Linked DNA regions of Homo sapiens: region 2 is linked to region 1. The links come from fine-mapping of genetic effects on gene expression. Tissue or cell type: whole blood. Region 1 holds a variant in brackets; the other region holds the start of a gene. All regions are shown on one strand. Distances are from middle to middle.

Region 1 (8,100 bases):
AGCCAGCGCTGGGCTCACTTTAGGTATAAAATTAATTTGCCAGCGACACATATCCAATTGCAAGGTTGTGCTAAGTAGGTCGTAACTATATTTAGGACCACACAGAAAGGAAAAAGTGATTGCTCAATTCATCACTGAAAATGAGATGGAAACTTCATGGAACTAAGATCTAAACTTCGGCGAAGTGCTCCAAATCCAAACTGTAATTCTCAGAACCAGGTAGTTCAAAAAAACATACCACAAATTGCATTTGAAGAAAGCACATTCTGCCCATTCAGGCTTAAAGCAGTAAGGCATCTTTTAAAGAAGAAAAACTGCCAACAGAATGAATCACTGTTGTTAGTTAAAATACAGAAGTAGTCGTTTCCGTTTCCATTTACTATCCTGTATATCGCTGCTTTAAGATGCACCCAATAGGCCAGGCACCGTGGCTCACGCCTGTAATCCCAGCACTTCGGGAGGCCGAGGCAGGCGGATCACGAGGTCAAGAGATCGAGACCATCTTGGCCAACATGGTGAAACCCCGTCTCTACTAAAAATACAAAAATTAGCCGGGCGTGGTGGCACATGCCTGTAGTCCCACCTACTTGGGAGGCTGAGGCAGGATAATCGCTTGAACCGGGGAGGCGGAGGTTGCAGTGAGCTGAGATCACCGAGATCGCCACTGAACTCCAGCCTGGCGACAGTCTCAAAAAAATAAAAAATGCACCGAATAGTTCATCCTGGGCTCTCACGTTTAGTAATTACGAGTGCAGAATCTGCATAAGGAAATCGATTAAATACTTAAGACGTTAGCCCTTGCCTTTTACCTATTATAGTAACTTGGAAAGCTGCGAAGGTAAAGAACAGCTTTCAGGCCTCGGGCGCTGGGGCCGCGCTTCTGCTCTGCACCCGTGGGTCTTGGGGAACAAGGCCTGGGCACCGGAGGGACTCGAGGCAGCGCGCGGGTTAGAAGCGTCCCGGCAGGCTCAGTTCCCGACGCGGCCCCAGTCCTAGCCTCCCTCCCCGCGCTTCGAGGCTGCCACCAGGGCCATCTTTTTCTGGATGGAGTCCAGGGGACAACAGAAAACTTCCCAACACTCCACCTCCTCCTCGGGCGGGACCAAGGCCTCCGTCTCGCGCACCGCCTGCATGAACACCCGGTCCACCATCCGCTGGCTCTTGGCCATGACCTCCGGGAACGGGGAGCGCCCCTCGCGGCCCCGCGCCGTCAGCACCTGGCGCCCGTCGTCCGGGTCGGCCTGGGTGCCCACCAGCACCCGCGGGACGGCCCCGGGTTCCCACGGCCGGCGCAGGCGCTTGCTCGGCGGCCTCACGGCCCGGAACGAGGCCTCGCTGCACACGCCCGGGAGCACCGCGGAGCCGTCGCCGTGGCGGATGTCCAGGTCCTGGAGCGTGACCAGGTGCTCGGCGCCCGCCGCGTCCACGACCTCCAGCAACGCGGGCGCCGCGTTCGCCTCGATCTCCTCGCGGAGCCGCTCCTCCGCCCACGCCGCGCACTGCTCGGGGAGCGGCCGCACGCGAACTGCGTGTCCAGCGTGGTCCTGCCCACTCCACGCTCCCCAGCAGCACACCCCGGCAGCCCTGGCGGGGCGCGGGACCAGCCCGCAGGGTCCGGGACGCGGCGGGGAGGGGAGGGGAGGGAGGAAGGGTCCTGGGAGGGCGAGGACCCGCGCGGGGGTCTGGCCTGGGGCGGGTCGGGAGGGGAGGGGAGGAAAACGGGGGGCGGGGGAGGGCGGGAGGAAGGGGCCTGGGAGGGCGGACGCGCATCCCACGGAGCCGGGGCGGAGGAGGCGGTCGCGCCGCGGCGACCCCCGCCAGCCTTGGCCCGGACCCGCGCCCTCCTGCTCTCCCTGGTTCCCTGCCCGCACAGTGCCCGCCAGGTGCCTGCCGGGTCCGACCAGATCTAATCTGGAACCAGCTCCAGTGAGAAAGAAAAACAAGTTGGCCGGGCGCGGTGGCTCAGGCCTGTCAATCCCAGCACTTTGGGAGGCCGAGGCGGGCGGATCACGAGGTCAGGAGATCGAGACCATCCTGGCTAACACGGTGAAACCCCGTCTCCACTAAAAATACAAAAAATAGCCGGGCGTGGTGGCGGGCGCCTGTAGTCCCAGCTACTCGCGAGGCTGAGGCAGGAGAATGGCGGGAACCCGGGAGGCGGAGCTTGCAGTGAGCTGAGATCGCGCCACTGCACTCCAGCCTGGGCGACAGAGCGAGACTCCGTCTCAAAAGAAAAAAAAAAAAAAAGAAAAAAAGGAAAAACAAGCATACATCAAATCTGTGAGAAGCAGCTAAAGCCATTTTTAGGGGCAAATTTCAGTTTCACATTTTTTATAATGGAAAAGAAGAGGAGCCAAAAAAATCAGTGAGATAAATATTCATCTCGAGAAGTCGAAAGGAGGCAGGGTGAGATGGCTCACACCTGTAATCCCAACACTTGGGGAGGCTGAAGTGGGTAGATCGTTTGAGCCCAGGGAGTTCGAGACCAGCCCTGGCAACATAGTGAGACCACGTCTATGTTAGTCTGTTCTCACGCTACTATGAAGAAATACCCGAGACTGCGTAATTTATAAAGGAAAAAGGTTTAACTGACTCACAGTTCCGCAGGGCTGGGCAGGCCTCAGGAAACTTACGATCATGGTGGAAGGAGAAGCAAACAAGTCCTTCTTCACATGGGGGCAGGAAGAAGTGCTGAGCAAAAGGGGGGGAAACCCCTTATAAAAGCATCAGCTCTTGTGAGAACTCATTGACTATCCTGAGAACAGCAGCATGGAGGTAACCGCCCCCATGATTCAATTACCTCCCACTGGGTCCCTCCCATGACACACAGGGATCATGGGAACTACAATTCAAGATGAGATTTGGGTGGGGACACGGCCAAACCACACCACCATCTCTACAAAAAATACAAAATTAGTTGGGCATGGTGGTGCATGCCTGTGGTCCTAGCTACTCAGGAGGCTGAGGTGGGAGGATCACCTGAGCCCAGGGAGGTCAAGTCAGCAGTGAGCTGTCATTGTGCCACTGTACTCCAGCAGCCTAGACGACAGCCTAGGCTGTCTCGAAAAAAAAAAAAAAAAAAAAAAAGGAAGAAAAATATCCAGTAAATTAATTCCAAATAAAGTAGAAGAAAGTAAATAACAATTAGCTGGACAAGGTGGTATGCATTTGTAGTCCCAGTCCCAGCTACTCTGGAGGCTGGGGTGGGAGGATTTCTTGAGCCCAGGATGTCAAAGCTGCACTGAGCTGAGATTCTGATACTGCACTCCAGCCTGGGCAATGGAGCAAGACCCTGTCTCTAGCAAGAAAAAAAAAAAAAAAAAAAAAGAAAAGAAAAGAAAAAATAAAATAAAGCACAAATTATTTGAAAACAAGAACAGAGAGGATCAACAAAGCCAGATGTTGGGTCTTTGAAAATTTAGATGAAAAGAAAAAACTCCTAAAATATATAACTAATTAAGCTAAAATTAAAGTAACAGATCAGAATAGTTCCATATCTATTAAATACATTGAGTATATAATTAAAAACTTCCCACATGAAAGCTGTAGGTTCCAATGTCTTCTCTGATTAATTGTAACAAACATTTAAGGGAGAAAAAAAGAGTTCATTTTACAAAAAAGAAAAGACCTCTCTCAGAGACTAGAAAAAGAGGGAACTTGTTTTATGAGAGCAGGGTAACCTTGCTATCAATCAGACAAGGACATCATGAAAAAGGAAATTTACAGGCCAGTCTCACATACACTCACACATTCACAGGTGTGAAAATCCTAAATAAAATAAATTCAGTGTTAAATTAAAAAAGATAACACACTACGATTAAGTGGACTTTAACACAGGGATGTAAGATTAACTTAATATGCTAAAAAT[A/G]AATTTAAATGGTCATGTAAAAGAATAGAAAAGAAAAATCATATGACCATCTGAGTAGCTGTGGGAAAAGCATTTGATAAAATTCAACATCCATTCATGACAAAAAGACTGTTAGCCACCTGGGAATAAAAGAAAATGTCCTCAGTCTATTTAAGATAGATACAGGAAGTTTCTAGTAAATATCATACCGTACATAATAAATATTATACACACTTTTGTCAAGTTTCCCACTATCTCCACTTCTACTTAACGCTGCACTGAGGTTTTCAACAATGTGACTAAGGCCAGGAAAAGAAACAAAAGGCATAATACTCTCATTATGTAGCTGATATATGTTCATTGAAAATATAAAAATGTCTAATAATTTTTTCTTTTTACATTTTCTTTTTCTTTCTTCTTTGTTTTTTAATCATCTAACCAGGTGAAAAATCTAGTATTTCTTTTTTTTCTTGAGACAGAGAGTCTTGCTGTGTCACACAGGCTGGAGCACAGTGGCACGATCATAGCTCACTGCAACCTCGACCTCCTTGGCTCAAGTGATCTTCTCGTCTCAGCCTCCAAAGTAGCTGGAACCACAGCCGTGTGCCACCAGGCTTGGCTAACTTAATTTTTTTTTTTTTTTTTTTTTGTAGAGACTGAGTCTCACTATGTTGTTCAGGCCAGTCTGGAACTCCTGGGCTCAAGCAGTCCTCCCACCTTGGCCTCCCAAAGTGCTGAGATTACAGGCATGAGCCACTGTGCCTGGCATAAATTGTTAAAATGAATAAGAGAGTTTAACAAGGTTGCTGGTTACAAAGCCAACACATAAAAATCATTTGCAACTCTATAGACCAACAATACAAAAATAACAAGCAAGAGCAAAATAAAAATGCATTTTAATAGCATCAAAAGACAGCAAATACCTAGGTAACAATCTAACAAAAGATGTACATGACTTCTATGCAGAAAACTATGAGACATTATTGTGATAGATTAAAGAGAAACAGACAAACATGTTCATGGATTAAAAGACTCAATATTTAAAATATGTTAATTTTTCTGAAACCAATTTGCTTCAATGTAATCCTAATCAAATTCTGGCAAGTATTTTGATTGCAGTCCATCAAGCTGATTCTAAAGCTTGTATAGAGATGCATAGGACCAAAGTTAGGCAAAATATTCTTTAAAAAGAATAATAAGGTGGGAAGATTTTGGTCCACCAGAGGCATCAAGATTTACAATAAAGTTATAAGATTTACAATAAAGCGACAGCAAATAGTGTAGAAAGACAGACAAATAGAACAGAGAGGGCACTGCCTAATGATGGTAGGGGAAGAATGGTCCTTTCAACAAATGTAATAGGATGGTTGATCAACAGATGGTGGACACAAAGAAAACTTAATATACAAAAACAAAATCCAGATATATGGTAGCTCTAGCTGCAAAAGGCAAAGCAACAAGGGTTAGAGAAGATAACATAACAGAAGATTTTCATGAACTCTGGGAAGAGAAGTGCTTATTACATAGACCATAGCATTGATCATAAAGGAAAGGATAATACATTTGATTATGTTAACACTGAGAGTTTCTCTTAATCAAAAGACACCATTGACAGAGTAAAAAGGCAAACTGCACAGTTGGAGAAGAGATTTGCAGTCCAATATTACTGACAAAGTATTCCTATCCAGAATATAGAAAGAACTACATACCAATAAGAAAAAGACAGCTGAATATAAAAATGGGCAAGAGACCTGAACAGTCACCTCATAAGAATATGTAAAATAAGGTCACATATTTATCAATATAGATATGTATATTTGGAAAATGTTACTACTAGTTACTCCTGGGGGATTGGAAGTGGAGGGTGGAGGTAGGGGGTGGTTTTCAATATTTTTAAAAAACAAGTTGTAAACAGTGATGGTGGTTCTTTTTGATTTTTATTAAAAATTATTTGGGGGGAGGGATAACATTAAATTATATAAAATCTGGTAGGAAAAGGCATTCTGGAAAAAAAAAAAGGCTGGAGAAAAAATGGTGGCTCCCATGATCGACTCAGTAATTTACTTGGTTGTTTGGTTATTCTTTTGTTTGAACATCTCCTACTATGAACTGATTTCAAAACCAGAATATACTGCATTTGTAATTTTAAGAAATAAATGTTATCAAAATATAAAGAAAAGTGCTCTTAAAATACCTTAAAATTCATGCAAGCTGAACAAACTAGACTGTCTGAGATTGACTTCTTGAAGCCAAAAGGCGAGACCACCCGAAGAGGGAGGCGCTGGGCTTCGCCTGAAGGGACAGGAGTCTCCTATGCCGGTCACCTGGGGACCAGGGCTTGATGGGAAGAGGGCACGAGTGGGGGGAGGGGCTCCGGCTGCAGGAGAATCCCCGCGGGAGCGTGGGAGGGGCCAGCTGGGCCAGGGCCGCCGCGTGTTCGGAATGAGTCTGATTCTGGCCGCAGGTCAAGCCGCGTTCTCCAAGCCACGATCTGTACCACCGATTCCCTTCAAACTAACTGCGACCGGGGCCCCTCGGGGCGTCGTCGGGCACGCGGTGTGAGGCCTGCGCCTGTGCGCGTGGGGTGGCGGGGGACCCGCGGCTGACACAGCCTTTGGCCTGGAGTCCTAAACGAGGGCCTGGAGTTCCTCCTGTGTGAAGACAGAGGCCTGGTTTCCACCTCTACCGCCTCCATAGCTACCAGGCGCCCACGGCCGCTGGAGGGTGCCTGCCGGGGCTGCTGCGGGGCTGCTGCGGGGCTGCTGGAGGGCCCAGCCCCTGGGGCCTCGGGGTCGTTCGGGTCCTGACGCTGCAGGACCAGCTGCGCGCAGAGGCCAGGAGACCCCGGTGCACTCGGCCGAGTTCTGCGCGCGGCGGGGACCGCGGAGGCACCAGCGACCTCTCCTGCCCGTTTGGACCCAGGGCTAGGGTCGGAGTGACACTATGGGTGGGGAGGCGGAGGCGGGGAGACTGAGGCGGGGAGAGGATTTTCGGCGCGGGGAGGGGTCGCGTGCGCGCCTGGGGACGCGGCGGTCCCCTAGGGTCTGCCCTCTTCTGCCGCGTCCTGGGCTCACTCGCCCAGCGGGAAGCGTCTCCTTTCTCCAACCCACCTGATCATCTTTCTCTCAACCCCCAGCTCCTGACCCCCGCGAGTTGGTCCCAGGGCCCGCGACAAGGCCTAGGCACCGGGATTCCGGGCGACATGGATCTTGGGGCCTCGAGCCTCCAAGCACCCAGGCCCTAGGAGGGCCGCGGGAAGGGGCGCAGCTGGGTCCCCGCCAGGGGTGCGGCAGAGGCGTCCGCTGGGAACCCGCCCCACGTAGGAAGCCTCGGAGTCCCAGATCCGCCCCGCTCAACCCAGGCTGGGGGTCTCCTCCGCCCGGCCCAGTCTCTGCAGCCCGCGCGTCGCGTTTGCTTTTTCGCGCACCGGAAGGGAGGCGCCCCCGCCACGACCCCAAGCCTCTGCCAAGTATCCGCCGGGGCCCTGCGCCCGCCCACGACCTCAAGAGCTCTGCGCCCCGGAGCGGGCGCGTCCTTCTGGACCACCCAGGCTTGGCGAGGGCATCGGCTGCTTGGAGGCCTCCGCGGATCGGGCGGGGGCGCGGCGCGGGGCTCTGGAGGTCATGGACGAGGGCGAGGCCGCGGGGGACCCGGTGTGCGCGCAGGTACGCGGAAGCTGGAAGCGGCGGGACGTCCTGTGTCACCGCTGGAGCCCAGGTGGAGGACAGGCCCCACTTGCCTTGCCTTGCCTCGCCTTGCCCCGCCTTGCGCCGCCTTGCCTTTTCCTTGCCTTTTCCTTGCCTTTCCTTTCCTTCTTTCCTTTTTTTTTTTTTTTTTTTTTTTTTTTTTTTTTTTTTTTTTTTTTTTTTGAGACAGAGTCTCGCTCTGTCGCCCGGGCTGGAGTGCAGTGGCGCGATCTCAGCTCACTGCAAGCTCCGCCTCCCGGGTTCACGCCATTCTCCCGCCTCAGCCTCGCGAGTAGCTGGGACTACAGGCGCCCGCCACCACACCTGGCTATTTTGTTTTTGTATTTTTAGTAGAGACGGGGTTTCACCATGTTAGCCAGGATGGTCTCGATCTCCTGACCTTGTGATCTGCCTGCCTCGGCCTCCCAAAGTGCTGGGATTACAGGCGTGAGCCACCGCGCCCGGCCAAAAATTGCTTTTCTTAATCAGTGTCCGTCCTTGTATTTTTTAAACTGAAGCTAAGCGTTACTCACGTACATAGTGCCGTATAAGATGTAACCGAAAATG
Region 2 (8,100 bases), 290 kb before region 1:
ACAAAAAAAAATTTTTTTTTTTTTTTTTTTTTGAGAAAGAGTCTCGCATTGTTGCCCAGGCTGGAGTGCAGTGGCGCGATCTTGGCTCACTGCAGCCTCCGCCTACCAGGTTCAAGCAATTCTCCTGCCTCAGCCTCCCGAGTAGCTGGGATTACAGGCATGCGCCACCACGCCCGGCTAATTTTTGTATTTTCAGTAGAGACGGTGTTTCACCACGTTGGCCAGGCTGGTCTTGAATTCCTGACCTCAGATGATCCACCTGCCTCGGCCTTCCAACGTGCTGAGATTACAGGCACGAGCCACCGCGCCCTGCCAAAAAAATTTTAAAAATCAGCCAGGTGCGGTGGCACATGCCTGTAGCCCCAGCTACTAAAGAGGCTGAGGCAGGAAGATTACTTGAGCCAGTGAGGTTGAGGCTGTGGTGAGCTATGTTTGTGCCACTGCACTCCAGCCTGGGCAACAGAGCAAGACCCTATGTCCAAAAAAGGGAAAAATATGGTTATTTGTGGACTTGTTCCAACCCTCCTCCTCTCAGAAGTTAGGTGCCCAACAGGCAGGCCCAGGGTGGTGCTCCCTTGCATCCTCAGGAGACCCTGCCTGGAGCTGCAAACAATAAACTTCTGATAGATTCCAAAGATGGACATGGTGGATTCAGCCATTCTCCATAAGCATCAACCTGCCTGCCCCTGCACCACCATGCAAAGGCCAAGCACTGCTCTAGGCACCAGGGAGGCATGTGTTAGCATGCAGAGCTCCTGCCTGGAGAGCCATCTGTGCATGTGTGAAAAGAGGCACACACATTCATTTCTGTATCTCTGGCACCTCATGAAGAACCTGTGCAGGAAATGCCAACCACCCTGAGACAAATGTTTCCATTGGTGTTTTAAGCACCACAATACAGGACACGGTTTTCAAAAATACATGAGACTTTATCAGATGTCTTGTTTAAATCAATATGCAATGGCTCACTCTTTTTTTTCTTTTTGAGAATGAGTCTTGGTCCATCGCCCAGGCTGGAGTGCAATGGCGCGATCTCGGCTCACTGCAACCTCTGCCTCCTGGGTTCAAGCGATTCTCCCGCCTCAGCCTCCCAACTAGCTGGGATTACAGGTACCACCATCATGCCCGGCTAATTTTTGTATTTTTGTAGAGACAGGATTTCACCATGTTGGCCGGGCTGGTCTTGAACTCCTGACCTCAGGTGATCTGCCTGCCTCAGTCTCCCAAAGTGCTGGCAAGGTGTGAGCCACCATGCCTGGCCGGATCACTCTTATTTACCAGTTTAGTAACTCTAACCAGAAAGAAGATGGGGTTAAACTCTAACCAAAAAGAAGATGGGGTTAAAATGGCTTGTTCTTATGAAAACTCAGGTTCAAATGACTTGTAGGTTCTACCAGTCACAGAAAAATTCAAACCTTAGTAAACAATCCACGGAAACAGGAAAAGAAGGCATACCCTACAGCTCATTTTTGAAGCTAAAAGTGACTTTGGGCCAGGCACAGTGGCTCATACCTGTAATCCCAGCACTTTGGGAGGCTGAGGTGAGCAGATCACCTGAGGTCAGGAGTTCAAGACCACCCTGGCCAACATGGTGAAACCCGTCTCTACAAAAAATACAAAAATTAGCCGGGCATGGTGGTAGGCACCTGTAATCCCAGCTACTCAGGAGGCTGAGGCAGGAGAATTGCTTGAACCCGGGCGGTGGAGGTTGCAGTGAGCTGAGATCACGCCACTGCACTCCAGCCTGGGTGACAGAGCAAGACTCCATCTCAAAAAAAAAAAAAAATTAAAAAAAAAGGTGGGGAGGTGATGGAGGCAGAACCTATGGATTAAAAAGAACTAAAAGGGAGTATCTCTGAACCTATTCTGGTTCAGGAACTTCCGGATTAAAGAAAAAAAAAGAACTAAAAGAGTCAGACTAATTCTTACGTGCAAACAAGTTTAGGAACCAATGATGCAAACTACATAGGTAAGACATAAGCAGGCATGAAGTGGCTAGGGAACAGAATTTAAAAGTCTTAATTTTTTTTTCTTTACCAAAAGCAGTTATATTTCTGAAAAGCTGAGTTTTAAAGATGGATTTGGAAGGAAGAATGGTGCCTGACTCTTAAGTTCTATAATATTTTTCAATTAAAAGCTGGTGCTGGCTGGGCATGGTGGCTCACACTTATAATCTCAGCACTTTGGGAGGCCAAGGCGGGTGGATCACCTGAAGTCAGGAGTTCGAGACCTGCCTGGCCAGCATAGTGAAACCCCATCTCTACTAAAAAAAGAAAAAAAAATTAACCAGGCGTGGCAGCATGCGCCTGTGATCCCAGCTATACTCAGGAGGCTGCGGCAGGAGAATTGCTTGAACCCAGTAGGCAAAGGTTGCAGTGAGCCGAGACTGCGCCATTGCACTCCAGCCTGGGCAACAGAGCAAAAACTCCATCTCGAAAAAAGAAAAAACGAACAAGGCAGAGAGGTCTCTCATCTTGAGAACAGACCCATGGTAAGATTTATTTTACTTTAACAAGAAGTCTAAGGCTGAGAGTGGTGGCTCACACTTGTAATCCTAGCACTTTGGGAGGCCCAGGCAGGCGCATCACTTGAGGTCAGGAGTTTGAAACCAGCCTGGCCAACAGGTGAAACCCTGTCTCTACTAAAAATACAAAAAAATTAGCCGGGCATGGTGGTGGGCCCCTGTAGTCCCAGCTACTCGGAAGGCTGAGGCACGAGAATCGCTTGAGCCCGGGAGGCAGAGGTTGCAGTGAGCTGAGATCACGCCACTGTACTCCCACCTGGGCGACAGAGGGAGACTCCAACTCAAAAAAAAAAAAAAAAAAAAAAAAAAGAAGTGTATATGACAATAGAGAAATCCTTATTTGGGTGCTGTTGTTTCTTTCCAGCACAAGTTCACAAAATAAGCTAGGGAAAATCCCCCCCGCCCGGGAAATGTCTTGGTTGATTTCCCGTTTGCTCTCTTAGAGCATTTTCAGACACCTGCTCTATCTTTCTGCCCAAAGATAGAGATGCTGGGTGGGTTTCTATGTTCTAGGGATAGAAGGCAAGGACTTGGTCACTGTAACACAGAACTGAGCTAGCCACTTGGGTGTCTGGTTGGCAAGTTGCCCTGGTAACTCCTTGTTTAAATTGTAAACTAGATAGACCTTCAAAGCTACAATTATGAAAGTGTACTAACAGCCACAGCCCAACAGAAATGAAAATGTACAAGCAAGTACATTTGCAATTTTTAATTAGCTTTTTTTTTTTTGAGATGAAGTCTCCCTCTGTCGCCAGGCTGGAGTGCAGTGGCGCGATCTCGACTCACAGCAACCTCCGTCTCCCGGGTTCAAGCGATTTTCCTGCCTCATCCTCCCGAGTAGCTGGGTCTACAGGCGCGCGCCACTATGCCCAGCTAATTTCTGTATTTTTAGCAGAGACGTTTCACCATGTTGGGCAGGATGGTCTCACCTCTTGATTTCGTGATCCGCTTGCCTCGGCCTCCCAAAGTGCTGGGATTACAAGCGTGAGCCACGGAGCCCGTCCAATTTTTAATTAACACTTTTTTAATACTTCTTTAATTATTGTTTAAACCAAGTTTTCCAGCCTCCTTCATTAGCCTGTTTGGTATTTGCATGCTTTGCTTGAATATTTTATCTCCAGCCCATTCCACACCGTTAGTCAACATTTTCATCTGACAGACGGAATCAAGGCCTAGGCCTCCCTTAAACAAAACATCCCTCCCAAAAGTACCACTTATAAAAATTGCTTGCCACAGACATTCTTGCTACAGACATTCTTTGCGGATCTTTGGCCAGTAACATGCATATACCCACACATAGTTTGCAAATAACAACTATTCAACGTGAAGTGCTACAAAAGTACGATGATAAAGTGCTCGCCGCTTGAAGAAAAGCACTAATAATTGTAACAAAGCCAAAACACACACACACACAACGAAAAAAAACGCACGGTAAGCCAAGAGCTCTTTAAAAATAAAAAATAATCATTCTCGGGAACAAATAAGGTAGGTACAAACTTGCCAGGTGACTCTGTTACGCTTAAAGGTTCTGGCTGTCAACAGTCCCCGGCGTGGTGGCGGCGGCACCCTCAGTCCCATCCGACTGAGGGCGTTGATGCGGGAGCCTCGGGGCTGCGGGACTGTTCGGGATAGGACGCGAGAGCACCTGGACAAAGGCCTGAGGCGGCTGTGCAGAACAGGGAGTGGCCCCGAGGCCCGGGTTTGTCTTCCCTTCCGGTCACCCCTCCCGGCCCAATGTCCCCAGGCCCCTGCTTACCCCGCTGGGCGCCGTATCCCTGCGCTCGGCGCCGCGCTCCGGAGCGAGTTGACAGCCGCGGCAGGCGAAGGCGCGGCAGAGAGGGGGGAGAAAGGTCTTCTTCCCCGCCCGCAAGACCACCATGGCCCCACGCCCCCTGGCTCCCGCGGCGCACGGCAGCATTGCGACGGCGCGAGGGGCCGCTTTACGGCAGGGTCGCGAAGCCCGAGGAAGCGCGGCGGCGCGGCCGACCGTGCGCTTTCCCAGCGGTGCGACGGGGTGAGGGGGCGGCGGGCGGCGCGGGCTGACCCGGGCGGCCGCTCCTTGGTCGCGGTCACTCCAGGCTGCCTCGCTGCGCCGCTGGCGGTGGGCGTGGCGCTGCCGGCGGCTAGGCGCGGACGCCGGAGGAGGTGTCCCCGGGTTTAGGGGTGTTCGGCCAGGGGCGGGGCTGCCGGGCCCGGGCGACTGCCGGAGCTGCGGAAGTCGTGGAAGCGTCGGCGACGCATCGCGCGATGGCGCGGGCGGGACAGGTGAGCGAAGCGCGGCTTGTAGCCTTTTCCCTCTCTCGGGGGGACGAGTGGGGCACCACCTCCGCGCGGGGCTCCCCGCTGGGCCACCCCTTCGCCAGCGCCCAGCCCCGTGCGGCCTGTCGGATCAGGCAGGGCAGAGTCGGTCTCGGCGCTGTCCCCGCCCCTGGGGTCGGAAGCGACCGGGGCTGGCCGGGCCTGGTCTCTGGTGTCTCCGGCCGGGCCTCGGTTCCCCTCCTCCCCCGGCTTCCCCCGGCCGGGCCGAGCTCCCCTCGCGCGCCCATTGTGAGGTCACGTCCTGCAGGCGCGCCCTGGCACCCGGGCCAAGACGCCCGGAGCGGCTGCTGCAGCCAGTAGCGGCCCCTTCACCGGCTGCCCCGCTCAGACCTAGTCGGGAGGGGTGCGAGGCATGCAGCTGGGGGCCCAGCTCCGGTGCCGCACCCCGTAAAGGGCTGATCTTCCACCTCGCCACCTCAGCCACGGGACGCCAAGACCGCATCCAATTCAGACTTCTTTTGGGTAAAGGGCCAAGAGGGAAGGGCGAGGCGGGGAGGAAGCAGCTCGGGCCGCCTTCCCTCCGTGGCCTCCAGGACATCCGCCGGGGATAGATTATGCGTTTCCATTGGTTACCCACCTTGAGCGAGCCGTTTGATAGAAACCAAGAGCTTGAAACGTGCATTAGGCCATTGTGGACTCCCAGTGGGAGGCGAGTGAATGAATTATTCATAGTTACCACGTTTTCGCGGGTTGTTTTTTTTTGAGAGAGTGGAGCATGTTGGGGGCTGAGGAGGTGTTGGGCCTCGAAAGCCCAAGGTGGTGCCCTTCAGCGCTGTCCCGGTCGCTCTTCTTTACCTGTGGGGTTTTAATCTCTTCAGGGAGACTTCTGTGAGGGAAGATGTGTGAGGAGCTAAAAGGGTGGGGAGGGGAAGTGCACAAAGGGATGGAGAGAAACGAAGAAGCGGGGACCTTGGGGATGTCTGAGAGCCACTGGTTTTTGTTCTGGTTCTTTCTTTTGCTTAGAGTTTCTGGAAACTAGGCATAGCTGTGTGGCGGGGCGGGGTACTGTTAGTGTTCGGAAGGTTACAAGAGCTACTGTTTCACCTTTCATAAAGGTGCCCTGCTGGTTCCAAATAGTTTGTGTCGCGTACGGTGACTCACACCTTAATCCCAGCACTTTGGGAGGCGGAGGCGGGCGGATCGTCTGAGACCAGCCTGGGCAATATAGTGAGACCTGTCTCTACTAAAAATAACATTAGCTGGGCGTAGTGGTGTACGACTGTAGACCCAGCTACTGGGGAGGCTGAGGTGGGATGACTGCTCAGAAGTATACCTTTTTAAAATGAGAATTTTAGAATGACTTAATATACCATTAGTGTTCTGCAGAAGCCTTGTGCTGTAGTAAGTTATCATTCTTGTCGTCTTTTAGTGCTTGTGAAACTGAACACAACAAAAGTATGGATATGGGAAACCAACATCCTTCTATTAGTAGGCTTCAGGAAATCCAAAAGGAAGTAAAAAGTGTAGAACAGCAAGTTATCGGCTTCAGTGGTCTGTCAGATGACAAGAATTACAAGAAACTGGAGAGGATTCTAACAAAACAGCTTTTTGAAATAGACTCTGTAGATACTGAAGGAAAAGGAGATATTCAGCAAGCTAGGAAGCGGGCAGCACAGGAGACAGAACGTCTTCTCAAAGAGTTGGAGCAGAATGCAAACCACCCACACCGGATTGAAATACAGAACATTTTTGAGGAAGCCCAGTCCCTCGTGAGAGAGAAAATTGTGCCATTTTATAATGGAGGCAACTGCGTAACTGATGAGTTTGAAGAAGGCATCCAAGATATCATTCTGAGGCTGACACATGTTAAAACTGGAGGAAAAATCTCCTTGCGGAAAGCAAGGTATCACACTTTAACCAAAATCTGTGCGGTGCAAGAGATAATCGAAGACTGCATGAAAAAGCAGCCTTCCCTGCCGCTTTCCGAGGATGCACATCCTTCCGTTGCCAAAATCAACTTCGTGATGTGTGAGGTGAACAAGGCCCGAGGGGTCCTGATTGCACTTCTGATGGGTGTGAACAACAATGAGACCTGCAGGCACTTATCCTGTGTGCTCTCGGGGCTGATCGCTGACCTGGATGCTCTAGATGTGTGCGGCCGGACAGAAATCAGAAATTATCGGAGGGAGGTAGTAGAAGATATCAACAAATTATTGAAATATCTGGATTTGGAAGAGGAAGCAGACACAACTAAAGCATTTGACCTGAGACAGAATCATTCCATTTTAAAAATAGAAAAGGTCCTCAAGAGAATGAGAGAAATAAAAAATGAACTTCTCCAAGCACAAAACCCTTCTGAATTGTACCTGAGCTCCAAAACAGAATTGCAGGGTTTAATTGGACAGTTGGATGAGGTAAGTCTTGAAAAAAACCCCTGCATCCGGGAAGCCAGGAGAAGAGCAGTGATCGAGGTGCAAACTCTGATCACATATATTGACTTGAAGGAGGCCCTTGAGAAAAGAAAGCTGTTTGCTTGTGAGGAGCACCCATCCCATAAAGCCGTCTGGAACGTCCTTGGAAACTTGTCTGAGATCCAGGGAGAAGTTCTTTCATTTGATGGAAATCGAACCGATAAGAACTACATCCGGCTGGAAGAGCTGCTCACCAAGCAGCTGCTAGCCCTGGATGCTGTTGATCCGCAGGGAGAAGAGAAGTGTAAGGCTGCCAGGAAACAAGCTGTGAGGCTTGCGCAGAATATTCTCAGCTATCTCGACCTGAAATCTGATGAATGGGAGTACTGAAATACCAGAGATCTCACTTTTGATACTGTTTTGCACTTCATATGTGCTTCTATGTATAGAGAGCTTTCAGTTCATTGATTTATACGTGCATATTTCAGTCTCAGTATTTATGATTGAAGCAAATTCTATTCAGTATCTGCTGCTTTTGATGTTGCAAGACAAATATCATTACAGCACGTTAACTTTTCCATTCGGATCATTATCTGTATGATGTGGTGTGGTTTGTTTGGTTTGTCCTTTTTTTTGCGTTTTTAATCAGAAAACAAAATAGAGGCAGCTTTTGTAGATTTTAAATGGGTTGTGCAAGCATTAAAATGCAGGTCTTTCAGAATCTAGAACTAGGCATAACCTTACATAATACTAGGAAAATTATGAGAAAGGGGAAATTTTTGGTTAAATAAGAGTAAGGTTCAAACACAAGCAGTACATGTTCTGTTTCATTATGCTCGATAGAAGGCTTTTTTTTCACTTATAAGGCCTGATTGGTCCTACCCAGCTTAACGGGGTGGGGTTTTT

Evidence for each region. PIP is the estimated chance that this variant, and not a neighbour inherited with it, causes the effect.
Region 2: COA8 starts here. The variant in region 1 is fine-mapped to the expression of COA8 in whole blood (TOPMed, PIP 0.98).

The regions. Positions count from the first base shown.
Region 1 is chr14:103,272,695-103,280,794 of GRCh38, reverse strand. It overlaps the pseudogene RAP2CP1. Among named protein-coding and RNA genes, the nearest start is that of EIF5, 57 kb to the left of the region's middle. The variant A/G (reference allele first, on the strand shown) is at 3,869.
Region 2 is chr14:103,559,305-103,567,404 of GRCh38, reverse strand. COA8 (cytochrome c oxidase assembly factor 8) reads right to left here and starts at 4,445. Exons shown (of 5, transcript NM_001370595.2): 1 at 4,281-4,445. The coding sequence starts at 4,403. It overlaps BAG5 (BAG cochaperone 5), which reads left to right and starts at 4,748. Exons shown (of 2, transcript NM_001015048.3): 1 at 4,748-4,789; 2 at 6,213-8,100. The coding sequence starts at 6,241. The coding sequence ends at 7,584. RefSeq lists a silencer at 4,491-5,140 and enhancers at 5,481-5,530, 5,630-6,143.